Linked DNA regions of Homo sapiens: all the other regions are reported to be linked to region 4. Evidence: microRNA targets listed by miRTarBase, many of them from high-throughput screens and not tested one by one. Region 4 holds a microRNA gene; each other region holds the end of a gene's coding sequence.
What was found. The annotated mature microRNA hsa-miR-1262 reads AUGGGUGAAUUUGUAGAAGGAU and lies in region 4 at 2,662-2,683, shown strand. An mRNA with a match to its seed (bases 2 to 7 or 8) in the 3' UTR can be bound and repressed. Matches are read on the target gene's strand: a 7mer-m8 pairs with bases 2 to 8, a 7mer-A1 pairs with bases 2 to 7 and ends in A, and an 8mer does both.

Region 1 (4,448 bases), not on the chromosome of region 4:
TGGTGCAGGGCGGCGCCTTCGATGGCACCACCGAGGGCCCCTTCAACCAGGGCTACGGGGAGGGTGCCAAGGAGGGCGCCGACGAGGAGGAGTGGGTCGTGGCCAAAGACAAGCCCGTCTACGACGAGCTCTTCTACACTCTGTCGCCCATCAATGGCAAGATATCAGGTGTCAACGCCAAGAAGGAGATGGTGACCTCCAAGCTGCCCAACAGCGTCCTGGGCAAGATCTGGAAGCTGGCCGACTGCGACTGCGACGGCATGCTTGATGAGGAGGAGTTCGCGCTGGCCAAGCACCTCATCAAGATCAAGCTCGACGGCTACGAGCTGCCCAGCAGCCTGCCCCCCCACCTCGTGCCCCCCTCGCACAGGAAGTCCCTGCCCAAGGCCGACTGAGGGGTGGGCTGCAGAACGGGGTGGGAACTGGGGGACCTGGGCCTCAGGCCTGCTCCACCACTGACTCACCGAATGACCTTGGGCAAGGCACTGCCCTCTCTGTGCCTTGGTTTCCCCATCTGTAGAATGGGGAGGGTGGACACTGGAAACTAGATGACTTCTTTCACCTCCAAAATTCCCTTAGTTTCTATGAAAATATTGGGGGTAGGGGGGTGGATTAGGAGATTGAAGGGTTGAGAAGAAAGAGAAATTGTCCAAAGAGTCCTCAGAACCTGCCTGGAGAAATGCGCATGGGGGTGGGCCTGGTAAGTCCCAGGAACCACAGGAAGTGAGCTAAGGCTCACCCAGAGCAGCTGGGTCTCCAGGCTGCCTGGGCTTTTTGTCCTCATGAACAACTCTGGAGCAGCTGTCTGTCCCTCAGAGGGCACCTGGAGGCAGCAAAGATTATCTTATTTATTTTATTTTGTTTTCTGCTATATTTAGAGTGGCAAAAAAATAGAGCAGAGGGTTTCTGCTGTCTCCAGACTGTCTACCAAAGAGAAGGCGACAGATGCCTCCTGGGTTTGGAAGGGGGATGCACTGTGGATCTGCCATCCATTCTGCAGTCTCCAGCAGAGCAGGCAGTCAGGCCCCAGCGTGCCTCCATCCCAGTGCCCCGATGACCATCTGGTCAGCCCTCCCAACCTCCCTTCCAGGGGGCTTACCAGCAAAGCCATATTCGGCTAGGAATTTGGAATTCACAACCTTTATTAACCCCTGGCAAAACTTCCCGTTTGCATGTCAAATCACATTGAAGCCTGAAAATTAGCTTTTCTTACTGGTTTTTCCAATAAGTAATAGCAAAGCCCACTTATCATACTTAAACTACAGTAAAGAAAAGAGGTGGTTCTCTGCAGTGATCGTTTAGTGTGGCCCTCAAACATTAAATATCCCGAGGTCTCCTTGGTGGGTGGCAGGATTTAAATTCAATCAAATCCTGTCCTAGTGTGTGCAGTGTCTTCGGCCCTGTGGACACAGGTGAATGAGGGACCAGCCCTGCCCTGGGCTGTTGAGAAGAGATCAGTCCACCCAGAGTTAGACATTGTTTTTGTAGAAAACAGGCATTTATTATGTCTAGGGTTTTGTGTTTTTTTTTTTTCCTTACAGGATAAAAGCCTTTATACAGAAACAAAATGGAACCTTTCATATAAAACCTTTTCTTTAAAGGCTGTGTGGTTCGTATCATGAATGCCCATCACGAGGCAGGATTCGGGCACATACCTGTACTTCTGCTCCAGAGTGTGCGCTCCCCAAATCCCCTGAGTAAACCTCTCTGGACTGCTGCTCAGACACCTGCGTCAGGTGGAGGTGCCTCCCCCTCTGTGGGCACCAGCTTGGGGAGGTAGGTGACTTTTCCTTGCAAATCTCCCTGCCTCATCTCCAGAAAATTGCATACCTGCATGGCCTCTCTGCATTATTTATGCAGGAAGAGACACGAAACAGCAATGGCCACATGGTATGGGGGCCTGCTGGCACCAGAAGTGAATGAAATCAGAACCGTCCCACTGAGTCTTCCAAAAGGCACATAATTTTTTTTTTCTGTCACCTGCCTTTGGTGACAGGGTCAAAGGCACAGATTGAAGAGAAAATCTTGATTTGGGAGAAGCATTTATATCCAGATGCCTACCCTTACACTCCCTAGCTTACTTTCTACATAATTTAGTTTTAAGAGCAGGAAATGCATAACATGGTTTTTAGTCTTAACAAGCACTTAAATTCATTAGACGCATAGAAAAGAACCATTTATTATTTTATTATTTTTATTTTTATTTTGAGAGGAAGTCTCTGTCACCCAGGCTGGAGTGCAGTGGCGCAATCTCAGTTCACTGCAACCTCCGCCTCCCAGGTTCAAGTGATTCCCCTGCCTCAGCCTCCCAAGTAGCTGGGACTACAGGCACCCGCCACCACGCCCGGCTAATTTTTGTATTTTAGTAGAGATGGGGTTTTACCATGTTGGTCAATATGGTCTCGATCTCCTGACCTCGTGATCTACCCACCTCGGCCTCCCAAAGTGCTGTAACCTAAGCAGACAGTTCTGTGAATGCGTGAGGACCACCTGAAGTCTGCAGCCACGGTGGAGGTCACCAAAGGGTGAACTGAGAGAGAAGAGGGAATTCACTTGCCCAAAGGTTTACAGATGCCCAGGCAAACTGATTTTTCCATCCAGAATTATCTTGTTCTTTAACTCTCCTCAATTGTCATATATAAACATGAATTTATATACATGTGTGTCACATGAGTATGTCGTTTTAAAACAACGTGTACATATGTAAGTTTTGTCTGGATACAGAAAGCTGCTTTAGAGGGCAGCAGGTTGAGGTCTCTGATTTCTCCGTGGAGGAAAACCTCTCAGGCACTGTGATCTCCCTACCTCTGCGCTCTCAGGTGGGAGAGGCGTCAGGCAGCGGAGTCCTTTCCCTGCTGGCACCTGGTAATGTTCTTGGAGAGAAAGGAAAAAAAAAGGAAATCATTTGGCCACTTTTCTTAATATCCTCTTACATGCAGTCATTCATCAAGAAAAGTTGACTGGAAAAGAAAACACTAGAAAATATGAGGGATGGCGACCAAGTGAGGACTTGTATCTTCCCAGGACCAGTACAAAGTTCTGTGAATGTGTCCACACCACCAGCTGTCTCCCTACCCCACACGGCAGGGCGGCAGGGCCGACCCTGGGGCCTGCTCACCATCACCGTTGCCCTTCCTGCACCACCCCAATTTTCAAAGAACCTCTTCCACAGAGTGTTTATGTATAGGAGAGAGGGTGGAAGTACCTAAACTCTAGAACTACAACATCTAAGAAGCTGAGGCCCTGTTTTCTACACAGCATATGGTATCGCATAACACAAACCTTCCGGTCTTGAGTTTAAAGGGAAAATGAAAACTCCAGCCTATTGCTCCCACAGTCTGCTTCCAAGTTGTCAGCCTGCCAGTGAGGGTCTCCTGACCCCGTTTGTAGAGAAACACTGCACTAAGACTTGGGAATCTCCCCAGCTCCCAGGGAGGGGTGGCACACAACAGCCTTCCAACCTGCTTCCGCCTCCTGCTCCAGCCCTGCAGCGTCTGTCAATTCATTTCTCAACTCACCGCACTTGGATGGCCTGGGGGCAGGGTTGCTCTTCTGGGGGAGGGTCATTCATTCAGTTGGCTTTTGGCTTTCCTTTCTCCGGGCTGGGCCTGGTTCTCTTTTGAACACTTGTCGTGCTGCAGCAAGAGCATCTTTGGATTTGGGGCTGTGGAGCTGTGGTTCACCCGCGGGAGTCACAGCCGCGGCCTGGACCTTTCCACCTCGCACCCTCGCTCACCCTCCTTCATGATGCCTGGAGGATGCCTGAGACAATTGCCTTGAAGATGAGGAAAGTGTTTCACTGTTTATTTTCTCCATGGGATGTAGCAGGCAAGCATGCTTAGGACAGAAAACCACTGAGTTTACTCAGGTAAATGCGGGCCTAATACAAGAGTATTGGGTTCCAATGTTGGTTAACCAATGCAGTTAATACGCAATGCTTCTATTTTTTTTCTTTTTGTAATCTTATTTAGAAGTTTCAAACAAAAAGACATAGTCTGCTGATCAATAAACATGGAGCTGCCCTCTCCCACTGGCTCATTTTCCAGTGGCTGCGTGCTGGCCTCTCGGAGCAGAGTGTGGATCCCTGGATCCAGGTTGAACCGGGGGAGAAGAGTTAGGGAGAGGGTGTGCCTGTGAGCCCCAACTCTTCCTGTGGAGAGAAACCCAAAATGCAGCCGCTTCAGAAGGAAAGCGGCCCCATCAGGTGGGGACAGAAGAGGGTAGGCAGCAGAGGCCAGGTCTGTGGACAAAAGCCCCACTTCAGAGTGGTTGGAAGCCAGGACAGGAGGGACTCATGGAGGTGACCGCTTCACAGGAGTCCTTTCTCCAGTCGTGCTAGGGAGGAGCCCCTGCCTGTCCAGCACTGCCCCTGCCTCTTGCTGTACCTTGCCAGTGTGCCCTCCCCCCGCCCACTACCATAGTAGGCATCTGGCTTTTCCCACCAACCC
Region 2 (4,448 bases), not on the chromosome of region 4:
ACTTAAGTCAGACCTCCTATGATGACCTGATCAGGAAAGTTGTAGAAGTCTTCAAGCCAGGAAAATTTGTGACCACCTTGTTTGTTAATCAGGTAATTTTATATTTTATTATTAATCAGGTTATTTGATTTTTAAAATCTTAAAGGAAATGAGACAGTGAGGCCTAAGATGTATTCTGAGATAGCACATATACCAGCCACTCAGATATCCAGAAGTAATATTGTTTGAGGTTACTGGTAGCTGAGAAGCTTTGTTTCATTAGACCTGTGTCAGTCCTTGTTTTCTGTCTAGCCAAACTGATGGGTTCCTCCTGTCTTGCTATTGACAGGCCTCTGGTGGGAGGAACCATAAGATGCCCTGGCCCCTCCAGCACATAAGAAGGCAGCTAAAATAACTCAGATGTCTTAGTTTCATTAAGATAAAAGTCTGTCACTTAACTGTTTTGGTTGAAAATACTTCTCTGGATTGCAAACACTAACGGTTATTTAATTTTTTCCCCCAGAGTTCTAAATGTCGCACAGTGCTTGCTTCGCCCCAGAAGATTGAAGGTTTTAAGCGTCTTGATTGCCAGAGTGCTATGTTCAATGATTACAATTTTGTTTTTACCAGTTTTGCTAAGAAGCAGCAACAACAGCAGAGTTGATTAAGAAAAATGAAGAAAAAACGCAAAAAGAGAACACATGTAGAAGGTGGTGGATGCTTTCTAGATGTCGATGCTGGGGGCAGTGCTTTCCATAACCACCACTGTGTAGTTGCAGAAAGCCCTAGATGTAATGATAGTGTAATCATTTTGAATTGTATGCATTATTATATCAAGGAGTTAGATATCTTGCATGAATGCTCTCTTCTGTGTTTAGGTATTCTCTGCCACTCTTGCTGTGAAATTGAAGTGCATGTAGAAAAAACCTTTTACTATATGAAACTTTACAACACTTGTGAAAGCAACTCAATTTGGTTTATGCACAGTGTAATATTTCTCCAAGTATCATCCAAAATTCCCCACAGACAAGGCTTTCGTCCTCATTAGGTGTTGGCCTCAGCCTAACCCTCTAGGACTGTTCTATTAAATTGCTGCCAGAATTTTACATCCAGTTACCTCCACTTTCTAGAACATATTCTTTACTAATGTTATTGAAACCAATTTCTACTTCATACTGATGTTTTTGGAAACAGCAATTAAAGTTTTTCTTCCATGAGTTGAGTCCTTAAGAAAATGATTCCAGTTACTCATTTTGCATATTTGCTATTTTAACATTATTGGACCCTGCATTTATAGTCCTTTGATTTCTTCCCTCTCCCTGGTGTCTCCCCCAAGACCCCAAATAAAGCAATACACTGTTAACACTGTGGGTTTATATACTAATTCTATACCCCAGATGGGGAATGGGGGAGATGGTCCCTGGGCTTAATATTCTTTAAAGGGCATGGGAATTTAGCCTCTCTTTTATTGTAATGTGCTCTTTTGGAAAATAGTTGGTTAGCAGGGAAGACCCAGAGTTGTAGATTGAGATTAGGGTGTACTGGCTGAACTGTGGAAAACATACAATTCTGTGTTCCTCAGTAAATGAGATTAGCGTCTAATGAGTAGCACCCCTTTACTAACTTAGTAGTAGTATAAAATCATTTTTATTTAGTTAATTACCAGAGAGATTTAGCATAATTTTGTTCTGGATTCAGTAAATCAAGTCAGCTTGGATCATTCACCTTAACTTTTCCTTTAGCAGCCATTTCCACTAGTTTCCATTAAGTAGTGTTCTATAAACTTTGATCCAAAGCAGAATCAATGTCTTTTCCATCTCGTGACTTAAAGTTCTGTGACTGTGATGCATGTGAGTGTTCCGACTTCATCTGTTCCTCTTAACTACGGTGTTTCCCTTACCATGGCATTCATAGGATGAAATGAATGACTGCCCAGAATGAGAATTTGTCCAGATTATTCAGATAAACATCATAAAGCAGAATACATTATAAATAAGTAGAATATGAATAAATAGAATAATAAAATTCCAAAATACTCAATGGGAAATGACTAGTAATATAGGCTTTCAAGAGTTGGTACCTTTTAGCTATATTTGCAGATTCTCTGGGATTTTAAGGAACTGAGAAAACAGCAAAGTTGACTAAATTTTATATTTCTTGTCCTCTAAATATTTTGATAATTTCTGGATTGATGCAGTGATGTTTTTGTTCCTTCCGTATTTATAAATGAAACACCTTTTTTTAGTGTTTCTAAACCTAAAATCTACTTGGTTTGAAATCAAGTGGTTGGAACACTGTTTGACTTTTATTTGAAGCATGTTGTTGATTGAAAATTTCATTGAGGAAGTTTTCAATCAGTGTGATCAGTTTGATTCTGTAATGAGCACAGCACCTAATATTTTGAGGAGCTCTGTTTTGAGGACCAATGCTTAAGGTGGACTTTGTTCGTAAACAATATCCCAATAGATTTGTTGACTTGAGGTCTGGTTTGGTTTTGTTTTTGTTTTGTTTTGTTTTGTTTTGTTTCCAATAGAATTAAGAATTCTAATGTTGAAAAACTGCACAAATTTTTATGGGACAAAGCCTAGAAAAGAGAAATGTAGTTTGAATCATAATCTAAATCATCGTATGATAGAAGAGGGAAAGTTTTGGTGCCATAATTTCTCCTTTCACTGGTGTTGGACTTAAATCAGTTGAAATGTATTTCTGTACCACAATTTACGCTTCAATAAAAGTTTAATTGTCTAGTGACATTCAGAAACTTTTCTGTTGCCCTGTTTTTTAAGTAGCCTACTTGACCAAATACTACATGTCTGAAGTTTAAAATCAATACAACAATGTGTATTTATGAGTTTGGAGTTAGACAGAAGTTTAAAAGTGTTAGGTCCCAACCTTTATTATAGACTAGACTCTTAAAACATTGGTTGAGGATGATCAAACTCAAATAAGTTTCCTTATTTCATTCATGGTTATTTCTATTAAGTAGAAAAAAATTTATAACCTTGATCATTTTCTTTATTTTTTTTAATTTAGGATCTTGTTCTGTTGTCTAGGCTGGAGTGCCGTGGCTGTTAACAGGTGCGATCATAGCATACTGCTTCCTTGAACTCCTAGGCTCAAGCAGTCTTGCTGCAGCTTCCCAAGTAGCTGGGAATGCAGGGTTCTGCCATCACACTTGGCTTTGTCATTTTCTTTATTTGGCAACATTTTAGTTCCACAGTCAAATATGTAATAAGCTGAAAAATCTTATGAAAATGTATATTCTGATCTTTCTCAGAATATGCTTCCGTTAGAAAATATTTCCTCAATTTTCATTAAAAACAGATGGTGTTCCTAGAAAAGCAAAATATTACATATCTGTGCAATATGTAATTCACAAGATTCATTTGCCAAAAACAGGTGAGTGAATTTGGGGGTTCATTAGTAAGCAGTCACCAAGTTTCTGTCACAGACACATAACTGGAAATGTGATTTTATTCTCCTGGATGGACAATTGTGATGGATTTTTTGGGTTCCGGGCTTCAGGCTTTGCAATCTCATCTTCTTTGCCCTTCCTCTTGTCATAATGGAAGAGGTGCTGCTAATTTGGGTTCCATCCTTTCCTGCTTTCAGAGACTGTCCTGTGATTTCCTAAAACATTTCCATTAGTTTGTTTGAATTTTCTGATTTTCTTCCCTTAGGGCCCTCCACAGGCCTCTGTGCTAGTGCCTTGAATGATGGCAAGTGTACAAAAAAAATTTTTTTTCTTTTTAAGACGTTTTTGTTCTGTCACCCAGGCTGGAGTGCAATGGCGTGATCTCGGCTCACTGCAACCTCCACCTCCCAGGTTCAAGTGATTCTCATGCCTCAGTCACCCAAGTAACTGGGACTACAGGGATGTGCCACCACACCCGGCTAATTTTTGTATTTTTAGTAGAGACAAAGTTTCACCATGTTGGCCAGGCTGGTCTTGAACTTCTGTCCTCAAGCAATACGCCCACCTTTGCCTCCCAGCATGTTGGAATTACAGGCATGAGCCACTGCACCTGGTCAAGTGTCCAAATTCTTACTCCAAAACTGAACTTTGGGCTGGGCGCCATGGCTCACACCTGTAATCTCAAAAGTTTGGGAGTCTGAGGTGGGAGGATTGCTTGAGCCTAGGAGTTTGAGGCCAGTCTGAGCAACATAGTGAGACCCTGTCTCTACAATAAATAAAAGGAAATTGAGGCTGTAATGAGCTGTGATTGTACCACTGTACTCTAGCCCGAGCAAAAGTGAAACCCTGTCTCAAAAACAAAAATCTTGACTTGTGCAATAGCCACAGTTTTCCTGGATTCTCAATAGAACCCTATGGTGACATTTGAAACACAAAGCTAGAGGTATGTGACTTCAAGATGGTAAGAAAACCATGAAACAGACTTGTCAAGGGATGTCTGATAAATTGTTGGATATCTGGCCTAGGGGCCCAGACAATAGATTTTAGATTTGTA
Region 3 (4,000 bases), not on the chromosome of region 4:
CTTAGCAAAGGTTAATCGGCATTGAGATTATGGACCTTTTTTCCCCTATTCATACTTTTTTTAAAGAAAATAATAGCTTGTAAATGTAATCTAAAAATGAAAATGGCTAGTAGTGACAAATGTATCAAATTTCTTGTTGACAATGACAGTAAAAAAATTCCTAGCTTTGCTTAGATAAGTAAAACTAATAAAACTTTCACTTCTACAAATATATTTTTCAAAATAAAACATTTTCTAATATGTTGATGTGACGATTTATAGCTGTTAATCTTTAACCTTTGATTGTTTCTTCCTTCCAGCAATTTTACCTGCTCAAGAATGGAAACCTCCTCTTCCAGCTTATGATTTTCTAAGTATGATAGATGCCGCAACATCTCAACGTGGCACTAGGAAAGTTCCCAAGTGTATGAAAGAAACAGATGTGCAGGAGAATGATAAGGAACAACATGAAGATAAATCGGCAGTCAGAAAAGAACCGATTGAAACTCTGAGAATAAAGCATTGGAATAGAAGTAATTGGTTTAAAGAAGCAGAAAAATCATTTAGACGTGATAAAGAGTTAGGATGCTCAAAAGTGAACTAATTTTATAGGGCTGTGGTTTCCAAAATTTTTTTGGCATGATAGACTTAATTTATTTCCTTAAAGAATAATATTAAATCATTTCAAGTTTGCAGACTAGTGCCATCCAATAGAATTATAATATAAGTCACATATTTTATTTAAAATTTTCTAGTAACTACATTAAACAAAGTAAAAGTGAGCAGGGCAAAATAATTTTGATATTACTTTTCACCCAGTAGTATACCCAAAATAGCGAAATATAGAAATTATTAATGAGATATTTTACATCCTTTTTTGTACCAAGTCTTCTAAATGCAGTACATATTTTATACTTACTGCATTTCTTACTTCCGAGTAGCCATATTTCAAGTGTTCCTTGCCACATGTGGCCTGTGACTACTGTATTGGACAGTTCAGTACTAGACAAAAACTAGCATAATTAACTTAGTTCTAGCCATGATTTCTATTTGGATTAAAATTAAACTCTAATCACAGTTAACTCCACAGTGCATTCATGCAGCTGACAGTTATATTTGTTTTATTGGAGTCATGATATTAAAATCAGCGTTTGTCAACCTCAGGGGATATTTAGCAATTGTCGGGAGACATTTTTGATGTCATGACTAGGGCAGTTATTGACATTTAGTGAGTAGAGGCCAGGGATCCTGCTAAATAACCTGCATTGGACAGCGCCCCACAACAAAGAATTATCCTGCCCGAAATGGTAGTCGTGCCAAGGCTGAGTAACCTTGTGTTAAAAGTAACCTGTGGCAGACTAGGTTTCCAGAATTTCCTGGTTCTGCTCACGTATCATGTTTGAAAAAATTTTGGCTATTAAAGATATGTATTAGATGGTCTTATCCTGATTATTACCTGGATACAACTTGATCTTTTCTAATATTTTCAGAAAGTGATGGGATAACCCTAGAAGAGGACTCAGAATGATATTTATATTTTAAGTGAGTCTTAAAACCTCCTCTTATTTCTACAAGTTATATGGCTAAATTTCAGATTGAACAGGGATTCAGCATTCTGCCATCTCCTCATGGAAAGAGAGGCTCCCTCATCTGAAGCGTCTCTGAAATCTACCCTTGCAAGCTTCAGACAAATCAGTTGATCTCCCTGAGCCACACGGCCTCATTCTGTGAGGGAGGGAAAGATTAGCCAAAGAGTTAATTTTCATTCCAAATCACTTAGCTGTTAGACTGATCTGTTTGTAGCAGTTGTTTGTCTCATTTTTGCTCTGTGCATTTTTTGAGACATTTGTTGAGAATATTCTATTTGGTGCTCTACTGTATTTTTCTTTTTAATATCTACTTGATATCTTGTTCTTTAAATTTTCTTCACATATGGTTTGCCTGATACAACTGATTTTTATAACTGAAATTTAAGGAATCTAACAGCTAAAACTCAGTAAGTGCATATATTTCCTTATAACATAGACCCGTTGCTACTCTCAGCACCCTCTCCTCAATTTTTTTTCCTGTAGCATGTGATGCCTGATTAAACTCATTTTCATTTGCTTTTATTTCTAATATGGGAACAATGAGAGTGAACTCTAAATATAGGTTGTAGTAATAAAACATCATTAGCCTAATTATTAGAAAATGCTAATTAAGTACCAGCACATAGAAACATGAAATTGCTTAGTCATTGTACCTTTGTCAGCAATTTTGACAGTCATTAATGTTTGTCATAATTTTAAATAAAGTGTCTGGGTTTCAGAATACCTTCACAAGCCTCCTTTAGTCTCCACTGTGCCCTCTCGGACCACTCTCCCTCTATCAGTTGGGTTTCTTTGGTTACAAGCAACAGAAATTCGACTTTGGCTCACTTAAGCAAAATGAGAATATTGGATAATTCACAGAGAAGAAAAAGTAAAGTAGGCTTTGAAAGGATAGGAACTAAGTCTGTTCTGTGTAACAGGAACTAACAGCTCAGTGAAGAATCGGTTCCAACTGATTTACTATCTTTTGTGACTCAGGGAGTCCTGGGAAAGTTGGTTAGGGGACCACTAGGCACTTTAATTGGCAGTCCTAACAGTATTTTATTTATTTATTTATTTATTTGAGATGGAGTCTCGCTTGGTCACCCAGGCTGGAGTGCAGTGGCGTGATCTCGGCTCACTGCAGGCTCTGCCCCCCGGGTTCATGCCATTCTCCTGCCTCAGCCTCCCGAGTAGCTGGGACTACAGGCGCCCGCCACCTCGCCCGGCTAATTTTTTGTGTTTTTAGTAGAGATGGGGTTTCCCTGTGTTAGCCAGGATGGTCTCGATCTCCTGACCTTGTGATCCGCCCGCCTCGGCCTCCCAAAGTGCTGGGATTACAGGCGTGAGCCACTGCGCCCGGCCCTAACAGTACTTTCAAATGCAGAAGGGGTGAATCTCACAAAAGAAATCCAAATTCTGTTTACCAGAAAAAGAGAGTGAATGCAGAGGAGGAAAAACAATGAAGAAATAGAAAAACCATGAATCCCCAAGACACTGCTTGCTGTTCTTCTACCATCCTCTGTATCCTTTTCAGGTCTTTCTGCTACCTCTTACCCATTTTTGAGAGCTCCAAAAGCCCTCTCTCTACCCTGAGTGGTTATAGCTTTCCTGTATATTCTCCTGGTCCTCTAGTAGGGTTGGTCGCCAGTGCATATTTACATTTTGTATAACATTTCATGTCTCATGAGTCATATTATTTCACCCTCTCCTGCCTCACCTGTGCTAGAATGTAAATATCCTTGGTCCATTGTTTCCAGCCCTTGTGATGAAATGTTTCACGAGCTGTTTTTCAAAATTCCTAGAGTTCCTCACTTATGCCTATGCTTCTTTAAAAAGTAATTAAATATGTGTAAGGTGAACAATAAGAGTTTGCAAATCAGTGTCTATTTCAGTAATAAAAAGTAATCGAGTAGATACACCTTAGGATTTTCACTTCCACCTAAGACGTAGAAAACTGCAAGACAATGTTACTCCTATCCTAACAACAAAAATTTATCAATTTTCTTATATCCTTCAGAGAAAGTAGCCAAAGGAACTGAATTTCAAAGAGTGACAAGTCCCCTTCAAAGAGAAACAGGATATGTGAACTGTTTTGCCTTCATCAGAGAATAGGAGGCTGCCATTAAAGCAAGTGAGAATAAATTATAAAGAATTTAGAAGCACTCCTTGCAAGTTAGTTTGCCTCAGATTCCTGAATTGGAAACAAAGGACTTTATTACACCAGTAGCATTAGTCGGAGTGTCAGCATCCCCACAGTGTTATCAGAAGAGGTCCAGGTGATACCTGCACACAGAGTGGATTGCATAACAGAAAGAACCCTGAGTTTAGGGAGCCCAAATATGTTATAATGGATATTTAGCATGCATGCCCTTTGCTCTGGAGGAATAGATCTTTATTATACTGGACAGTAATCAAACTTGTCCTTCTAGAGGGAGATACTCTCTAGGGAG
Region 4 (4,000 bases):
TTTAGCTAGGATTTGAGTTTCCAAACCCTCAGAAAACTAGAAAAGCATTGACTTACACTATAGAAGCTGGCCATTGTTTTAATTTCTGAATTTAATCAAGCCAGTGCCTTTGGGAGAAAAATGATGGCATTATAAGGTACTTTATAGTAATAAATTTCCTGATACACAGCTTCTAAAATTCTTGGAATCTCCTGAGTGATAGGAATGCCTCTTTGCATGCTAATGAGTCAACTGATGGCTGGGGACTCCCAGATAGCTTCAGAATGGTCACCTGAAAGACCAAGGCATGATTAGAAGGGTGGGGAACTAATTTCAGCCCCACCCACCAACAGCCAGGAGGGAAGAGGCCTAAAGATTGAGTCACTCGCTTATGGCCAATAATGTAATCAGTCATGCCTAGGTAATGAAGCCTCCATAAAAACTCAAAAGGACTGGGTTCTGGGAGCTTCCAGACAGCTGAACTTGCAGAGGTTCCCGGAGCATGGCACCCTAGAGAGGACAGGGATGCTCTGTGCCTTATCATAGCCATCCTCAACTTTTTGGGCACCAGGGACCGGTTTCATGGAAGACACTTTTTCCACAGATGAGGGGATGGGGGATGGTTTGGGTATGAAATGGTTCCGCTTCAGATCATCAGGCATTAGATTCTCATAAGGAGCATGCAGCCTAGATCCCTTGCATGAATACTTCACAATAGGGTTCCCACTCCTATGAGAATATAATGCCAGCTGATCTGACAGGAGGCAGAACTCAGGCTATAATACTTGCTCACCCACCTCTTACCCCCTACTATATGGCTCAGTTCCTAACAGGCCACTGACTGGTACCTGTCTGCTGCCAGAGGGTCAGGGATCCCTGCCATACCACATGCCTTACCCTATCAATCTTTTATCTGGTTGTTCATGTGTATCCTTTGTCATATCCTTTATAACGTGCATAAGTTAAGTGTTTCCCTGAGTTCTGTGAGCCTCTGTAGCAAATCAATCAATCCTAAGGAGGAGGGTCATGGGAACGCGTATTTATAACAGGCCACAACCTGTTTTTTCGATGGGCATCTGAAGTGGGGAGCAGTCTTATGGGACTGAGCTTTCAACCTATGAGACTTGATGCTATTTCCAGGTAAGTGGTGTCAAAATTGAATTTTTGGACACCCAGCTGATGTCTGCTGTGGAAGTGATTGATTGCTTGCTTGGTGTGTGGAGAAACCTCCCCCGACTCTGTGCCCCGCTCCTTCCATCACACCTGGGTCAGAAGTAGTCTGTGTTATGTTGATTATGAGTGGAGTGGGAATCAAAAAGTGTTTTTTTTGTTTGCTTGTTTGTTTGTTTTTCCCCTCACTCGGAGTTCAACTTCTAAATGGTGGTAGTTTTAAAACAATAGTCTGTAAGAGCTGAGGAAAAGAGGCCAATTAAGAAAATCTAGAGACTCATAGATACTTGGGAACAGGAGTCATTGACCTTTCAGTGAATACCAATTACAAATATGAACAGACCTGTCTGTGGAAATCTATGATTGAGTCAGTGCTGGCTTTTTGCTAAATATTTCAGAGGTACAGAATTAATGAATTTGTCAGGATGTAAACATGATGCTTCTGTCTAGTTGTTAGGGATATGGGATTTCAATTTTTACTCTAAAGGAGTTAGGAAATGGAGTATGAATAGGCAGAGAAGAGTGTCAGAAAAAAGTCAGCCTTAACATTTAGAGTCTGGATGTATTATGAATCACTGATAAAAATGATTATTTACCTGATGGTATTAGACCTCTTGGTAAGGCCAAGTTCTGTTATTTGAAAATATATTCTAGAGTGTTTTTGTTTTGTTAACATGCCATTCTAAAATACTTTCCCAAATATACCATTTTTTAAAAAGTCACTCTATGCATTAGGAAAAGAAAGGTTTGGGTTGGCTAAAACGGTACCCACTGGAAATGGGTTGTCACTCTAATGATTACAACTGCAAGTCATACACTTAGTATACCCCAGACTCTCCAAGGGCTTCTTTTGAGAAACCTGGGTGCATAGATCAAAGTTAGAGAATTTGTTTACATATCTCTCTTTCCAGCTTTCAAATCTATAAGCTGTTGAAATAGAAGCACTAGAGCCATTGGCAGAAAGCCTCAAGATGGATAGCTGTGTCTTGAGTAGTAAATCTAGGAGTTTCAGGGGTTGAAAAATTCCTGAGACTGAAAAAATATTGGTAAATGATGAAGGGTAGGGGAAAGCCAGAATAATGTCAGTCCTATTCTTACGTAATGAAAGCATTATGTTTCGCCTTGATCCTTGTGCTGTACACTGGAACCCAGTGTTGTCTTACTTGTTTCATTATTGCAAATGGTCACATGAAGCAGAATTCTTTCTATAAGTGGCAAGTGATTTTTCTTTCCCCACACTGAAAGCATTTCTGTATAACAAATTTCTAGTTAAAGTAATTAGAATGATATTATTACCAGTCAGTTTTCAAGTTAGATGGCTGAGTGTCCTGGGAGAATGTTGACTGACTTTTGGCAGAGTAATTGTGCTTTTCCATTTGTCCATTTATTATGGAATGTTAAGTGGACATCAAGGGAAGACAACTGGAATAAAGGGAACAATCTATTGATCATAAACAATTCTCTGAATTTCATCCTTCTACAAATTCACCCCTCACATTATCTACAATGGTGATGGGTGAATTTGTAGAAGGATGAAAGTCAAAGAATCCTTCTGGGAACTAATTTTTGGCCTTCAACAAGAATTGTGATATTTAATTCTGTGTTTTCTGATGCTTCTGAGGAAAGCTCCATAAAGAGAGCTGAATGGGGCAGAGGATTTTATACACTATAAGAACTATCCCTGCTATGATGGAACAGGCCATTGGTAGTATGATATTCACATAATTGTATTTCTGTGCTTCAGCAGATAGTCCTTATTAATAAAATATGTTGAAGCAACTGCTAAGAAGAAATGTATAACTCTACTCTCCCACCCCTACTACTACTCCCACCAAAAAGAGGTCTTCTTTCATTTACGACCATGTCTTCTTTAATTTATGACTATGTTATAGCCTGTGTTAAAACTATCTAACATTTTGGCTGGGCACAGTGGTTCACACCTGTAATCCCAGCACATTGGGAGGCTGAGGTGGGTGGATCACCTGAGGTCAGGAGTTCAAGACCAGCCTGACCAATATGGTGAAACCCTGTCTATACAAAAATTAGCCCAGCATGGTGGCGTGTGCCTGTAATCCCAGCTACTTGGGAGGCTGAGGCAGGAGAATCACTTGAACCTGGGAGGTGGAGGTTGCAGCAAGCCGAGATCGCACCACTGCACTCCAGCCTGGGCAACAGAGCAACTCTGTCTCAAACAAAAAAAACCTCTAACATTCTAATTAGATAGTTTTCATTGTTGGCTAGTGTCACTAGAATTTTAAAGTTACCTTTTAAGTTTCTTTACCACAATTTGAGTCAATGCAAGCAGAAATAAAAACTTCAAATTCTCCCTTTGTTCTCCTCCTCCCTCCTCTCCCACCAAAAAAGGCAAGTTGAAAAGCTCAAAATACATCAAAAAGATCTCAGAGACTTAAATGGAGTAGGGTTTGTAGTGTTAGGTAAATGGTACGGAAGTTGTCAGTATTCAAGATGGGCTTACATGGCCAGTCTTCTTTACTCTTATTGAATTGTGTGCCCCTTCAAACCAAGGCTGGAACCTGGAAGTTACCAGTATGAATCAGTTTTACTTACTGACTTGGTATAGAAAGCAACTGAAATCATGGGAGAAAACTATATTTTGTTTACCCCAGGATAGAGAAGATTAGGGACATGATGTTTGTTTGCTCATGAATTATCTCTCCCTTTGAGGAAATCTTCAGGCACTTCTTGACAGCTCTTCCTTTGGAATTGACCGTTGTGAGCATGTTATATTGGCAGGAGCATGGGAACCTTTGGCTTTGAGTGTGATTATTGTTAAGCACATTACTTGGACAACATCATTATAAGGCTCCTCCATAGGCATCGCTATAGAGCT
Region 5 (4,448 bases), not on the chromosome of region 4:
ATCGGGAAGATCAAATAAGATACTGTACGTGAACATAGTTTGCAAACTGGAGCTTAGTGTAACAGTACCGCTTTTACACTTACTATCAGAAGACCTCTTTAAGTTATGGTTGAGTTCAGTAGAATATTTATTTTGTGGAATTAACTATAATTCTGTGAAGGTATCAGGAATGAGCCACGTTGCTTTTTACAGAAACTGAGTCAGCTGGTATTTGAGGTATGACATTTAGAATTCTTGAGATTATTTGTAAGAAAAAGGTTTCTCTAGCAGCCCAGGAAACATATGGTTCTGTACTCTTCTAGGCTATAGTTTGGATGGGGAGGCCACAGTCCACATAAGCGGTGCCACAGCATTAGTCAGATGTATCTTTTGTACTTTCTACAGATGGATGACAATCTTCGCCAAAGCCCTCAGCTTCCTCCTCGGAAACTGCCAACACTTAAATTGACTCCAGCAGAAGAAGAAAATAATTCCTTCCAACGGCTTTCGCCCTGAGAGTAGTCATGGTTTGTGGCCAAAGTCAAACGATTGTTGCAGTAATCTCTTACACCAAGTGTGTGAAGGCAAAAAGAAGATACCATAATAGGTATTAAGGAAGACTCTAAACCAAAAGGAACTTTCTATGCCATCTATTTTTACTATTATTATTAGGAAGCTTGTATTCTAGCTTGGCACTGCATTTTTAATAACAAAGAGAATGCTAAATGAACTTGGTTGGGGGGGCGGGGAAGAAAAACACATCGTACTGTATACAAAGAACTGCCTTAATCATGGCAGATTTTTGCCTTTGGTTCACATGTTGCTGACCAAAGGCTACAATTCTGTTCTGAATGTGCACTCCTAATTTATTTGATTTAATTTATTCAATTTATTAACTTAGTTTTCTTAGACCAGGCTGAATACCTAATATGTGGCTTTTTGGCTGAGGCTTTTTACTTCTGTTTAGAAATTTGATGCCTATTTTAGGAACCAGAAAAAGATAAATTGCTTCAGTAGAAGAGACCATATTTAACTTTAAAAAGTGAGGAGGAATGTGCTTTTTAATTATGCTCTCATAAGTCTAATCTTTTGGGGGTTTAGTAGCACATAGATAAATATTAAAGGTGGTTACATATAATAACATCTGATAATACTCATTTCAGTATAACATTGGTCTTTGCTGATGTGTTCGATATAGGTTAGGAAGAGTTCTTTTAGTTTACTTGGGCAAATGTGGCAGTTTTAGACCTATGTCTTTGTAGTACATCTTCAGTTGTCTTTCTTGTATTAATTCCAGAAGAAGTGAATGTACTGGTTATCGTTACTATGCTAGGCTGTAAAATTCTTACTGAAATTGCCCACTTGTTAGACACTACTCAGGAGGAGCCCATGGCCAGGGTAGTAGAAATACTGTGCATCTGGTCCAAGTTTTCTATGCTTGGCTCATATTCTTTCATAAGATGCATATTCTTTCATAAGATGCATATCATGTAGTCAAAAGCTTTCTGACAACCAATTATTTTTCATATGTTTCACTTATAGTCGAAGAATACAAAGGAACAATCAGAAATAGCAGCTTTTAATGAATATTTTCTATTTATTGGTTGCTGAACTGTTAAGGGATTTGCTGTGTGGTAATTTTACTTATAATAGAAACTTGCTTATTTTAGTGGTTGAGGTGCTTCTGTTGTCCTAAAACTACTTCTGAGGTTTTTAAAATGTAGAACCATGTTTTTGATTAGTGTCTTAAAAGATTACTGTGGTGCTCAGCAAATCTTATCAAGTCGTGCAGGAACCCATATGTTAAGAAAATGAGCTTTGTAGTCAAAAGACTCATCTAATTTGAGCTGAGTGGAGCTCAGCTGTGTTTGACCCACATCCTCCCAATTTGTTCTGTATTTAGGTAGTTATTTATACAAGAGTCTTTAAGTCATTCTAAATATTTTTTCTTGAAAGTTTTAACTAAGTGAGAAATAAGGTAGTCTTCAAAATCTTGGTCATCTGTTTGGATGAGGGAAAGTACCTCATGAGTTGCACATTACTTCTACAACAGGGTGTGTGTGTGTGTGTTTGTGTGTGTCAGTCATCTTCAAAGGCAGATTATTAGATTCCAGCAATCTGAAATCTATTATTCCAGCAGTCTGAAACCTAAATATGTTATATTGGAAATCATGACTGTGAGACTTTATTGTCCTCTAGGATGGATGTATATTGGAGAAGGGTGGTTAGCACATTCATCAGACATCTGCTTATGCTGTGGTCAAGGCCAGTCATTTTTAATTTATATCAGATTTATATCAGACCCTCCAAAAAGTATTTGAAATATATTACAGTTATAACGTACAAGTACATTACATGTATATTACAAGTATATTACATGTAAAACAGGACAATTTAAAAATTTTAAATTTTAAAGAATTAAAAATTTTAAAAATTTAAATTAAAAAAATTAAAAATTTATAGAACCATATCAACACTGACAGATTCTAAAATTAAGTAGTAAATTTAACTCCAAGTTTCTCCATGGGCAAAGTCAAAAGATAATGCTAGGTTATGTCAATTTTTCTTTTCAACAAAACTGCTAATGTCTATTAGGAAGAAAAATGTGTTTAAAGTTTTACAGGAACGTGGAGCTCATGTTCTTCTGATATGTAGACTTTGATAAAGAAGCATACTGTAATGTTTTATGAACTGAAATTTTAATCAAAAGAGGTCATTTTAGAATAACAAGTATTATTCTTTTTTAGTAGAGGGAATGACTGTCAATATGATTTATTTGTTTTTGTGTCATCCCTACTTTGAACTGCTGTTAGCCTTACATTCTCACTATAGTCCATAATGCTTCCAGATCACCTTTTCTAAGATGCAACATGTGAGTTTAGTGAGAGTTTATATGTTGGGTTACTTAGTTGAGCTATTTATGTATAAGTAAATGAGATGACAGGAAGCTGTAACTGAGCACAAAGTACTTTAGGGAGCAGCCACACATACAGGAAGCTCTTAGAAAAGAACTTTTTTTTTTTTTTGAGACAGAGTTTCACTCTTGTTGCCCAGGCTGGAGTGCAGTAGCGCAGTCTCGGCTCACTGCAACCTCTACCTCCTGGGTTCAAGCAAGTCTCCTGTCTCAGCCTCCCAAGTAGCTGGGATTACAGGCATGTGCCACCATGCCCAGCTAATTTTGTTTTTTTTTTAGTCGAGACGGGGTTTCACCATGTTGCTCAGGCTGGTCTTGAACTCCTGACCTCAAGTGATTCACCTGCCTCGGCCTCCCAAAGTGCTGGGATTACAGGCGTGAGCCACTGCGCCCGGCCAAAAAGAACATTTTGTCAATCTGAACAGAGCACAGAACATTTTTTCAGACTGAACAGACTGTTGGACCAGCCTGTCATGATATGTTTTAGATAAAGTTTGAGTGAGTTCATTGGGATAAATGGTCCACAATCTTAAACAGAATACTGTGAGCCAATGCCTTTTGGAAGTAATGGTGGAGGATAATATGATTAAAGGGAACATGCTTGTGTTTATTTTTGTTGGTAGTATATGATTAGAAAAACTAGATAATTCCCATAAGATGAAGATCTTCCATGAACAAACTACCATCAATCATCCATCAGATTGATTTTTTTTTTTTTTTTAAGTAACACTAAAGAAGCTGTAAAGAACATTGAAGGTGGTCATTCCTTCAAAACTGTGTTTTGACCACACAAGGTGGGCATTAACAAACCAAATTTCAACTTAAGTTTGTTTGTATTATATTGGGGGTGCTGCGAGACTGGAGATTTTATAAAAGCAAGCATTTTTATTTCCATTTATAATTTCTATTCAATATTGCTAGATATATTAACATGAAGGAATGGGGAAGCTTATTTCAATCAAAGCTAAAATTTTCAGAAGTCTGTAAAAATGGAAAAACACCATTGAAAGAGGCAGAAACAGGTAAGGGGGATAGTATCTTAGAAAACCTGTTGGTTAAGGCAGCTGCATGTGATAAAAGTGGTACTTGAACTTGGTAGTGTTTCCTTAGAACCTCCTCCAAAAATATGCATTTACCAGGCTTGTTACAATTTTTTGACAGTTTTTCATCAACTGTCAAAAACTTCAACCCTTTTAAAACCTAGATATAAATGCTTACATGTAAAGAAAGGAAGCTAAGCAGTGGGTACCTGGGATCTCTCTGAACTATTTTTATAACTTCTTGTGAGTCTTAAGTATTTCAAAATAAAAGTGGTTTTAAAGTAAATTCATAGATTAAATGTATCATTATCTATATATAAACCATGATTTAAAACTTTAATTTTCTAAACATAGTATTCAACTTAGTTGAATAAATATATGATAGAAGTTAAATAGAATTTTTATTTCATTCTTAAGAAAAACTCATGTTTGTAACAAATGATATCTAAAGATCTATTTTGCCTTACCAGAAAAGAAAAAAAAAACCCTAAAACCAAAAACTCCTTTTCCCTAGG

Region 1: the mRNA of EHD4 is a reported target of hsa-miR-1262. Seed matches in the 3' UTR shown: 7mer-m8 at 736-742 and 7mer-m8 at 2,223-2,229.
Region 2: the mRNA of AMD1 is a reported target of hsa-miR-1262. The part of its 3' UTR that is shown has no 7-base or 8-base seed match.
Region 3: miRTarBase lists TXNDC16 as a target of hsa-miR-1262. Seed matches in the 3' UTR shown: 7mer-m8 at 791-797.
Region 5: the mRNA of MTX3 is a reported target of hsa-miR-1262. The part of its 3' UTR that is shown has no 7-base or 8-base seed match.

The regions. Positions count from the first base shown.
Region 1 is chr15:41,896,592-41,901,039 of GRCh38, reverse strand. It overlaps EHD4 (EH domain containing 4), which reads left to right. Exons shown (of 6, transcript NM_139265.4): 6 at 1-4,448. The coding sequence ends at 395. LOC105370792 (a long non-coding RNA gene) reads right to left here. Exons shown (of 4, transcript NR_135681.1): 3 at 3,519-4,448; 4 at 2,225-2,873. Among named protein-coding and RNA genes, the nearest start is that of SPTBN5, 4.8 kb to the right of the region's middle.
Region 2 is chr6:110,892,974-110,897,421 of GRCh38, forward strand. It overlaps AMD1 (adenosylmethionine decarboxylase 1), which reads left to right. Exons shown (of 9, transcript NM_001634.6): 8 at 1-92; 9 at 503-2,740. The coding sequence ends at 643. Among named protein-coding and RNA genes, the nearest start is that of AMD1, 20 kb to the left of the region's middle.
Region 3 is chr14:52,428,887-52,432,886 of GRCh38, reverse strand. It overlaps TXNDC16 (thioredoxin domain containing 16), which reads left to right. Exons shown (of 21, transcript NM_020784.3): 21 at 300-2,291. The coding sequence ends at 583. Among named protein-coding and RNA genes, the nearest start is that of PTGER2, 120 kb to the right of the region's middle.
Region 4 is chr1:68,182,259-68,186,258 of GRCh38, reverse strand. MIR1262 (microRNA 1262) reads left to right here and starts at 2,649; the gene lies at 2,649-2,741. The region is part of intron 2 of WLS (Wnt ligand secretion mediator); the gene reads left to right. All of the region lies in intron 9 of GNG12-AS1 (GNG12, DIRAS3 and WLS antisense RNA 1), which reads right to left.
Region 5 is chr5:79,979,731-79,984,178 of GRCh38, reverse strand. MTX3 (metaxin 3) reads left to right here. Exons shown (of 9, transcript NM_001363818.2): 9 at 385-4,448. The coding sequence ends at 495. Among named protein-coding and RNA genes, the nearest start is that of MTX3, 9.3 kb to the left of the region's middle.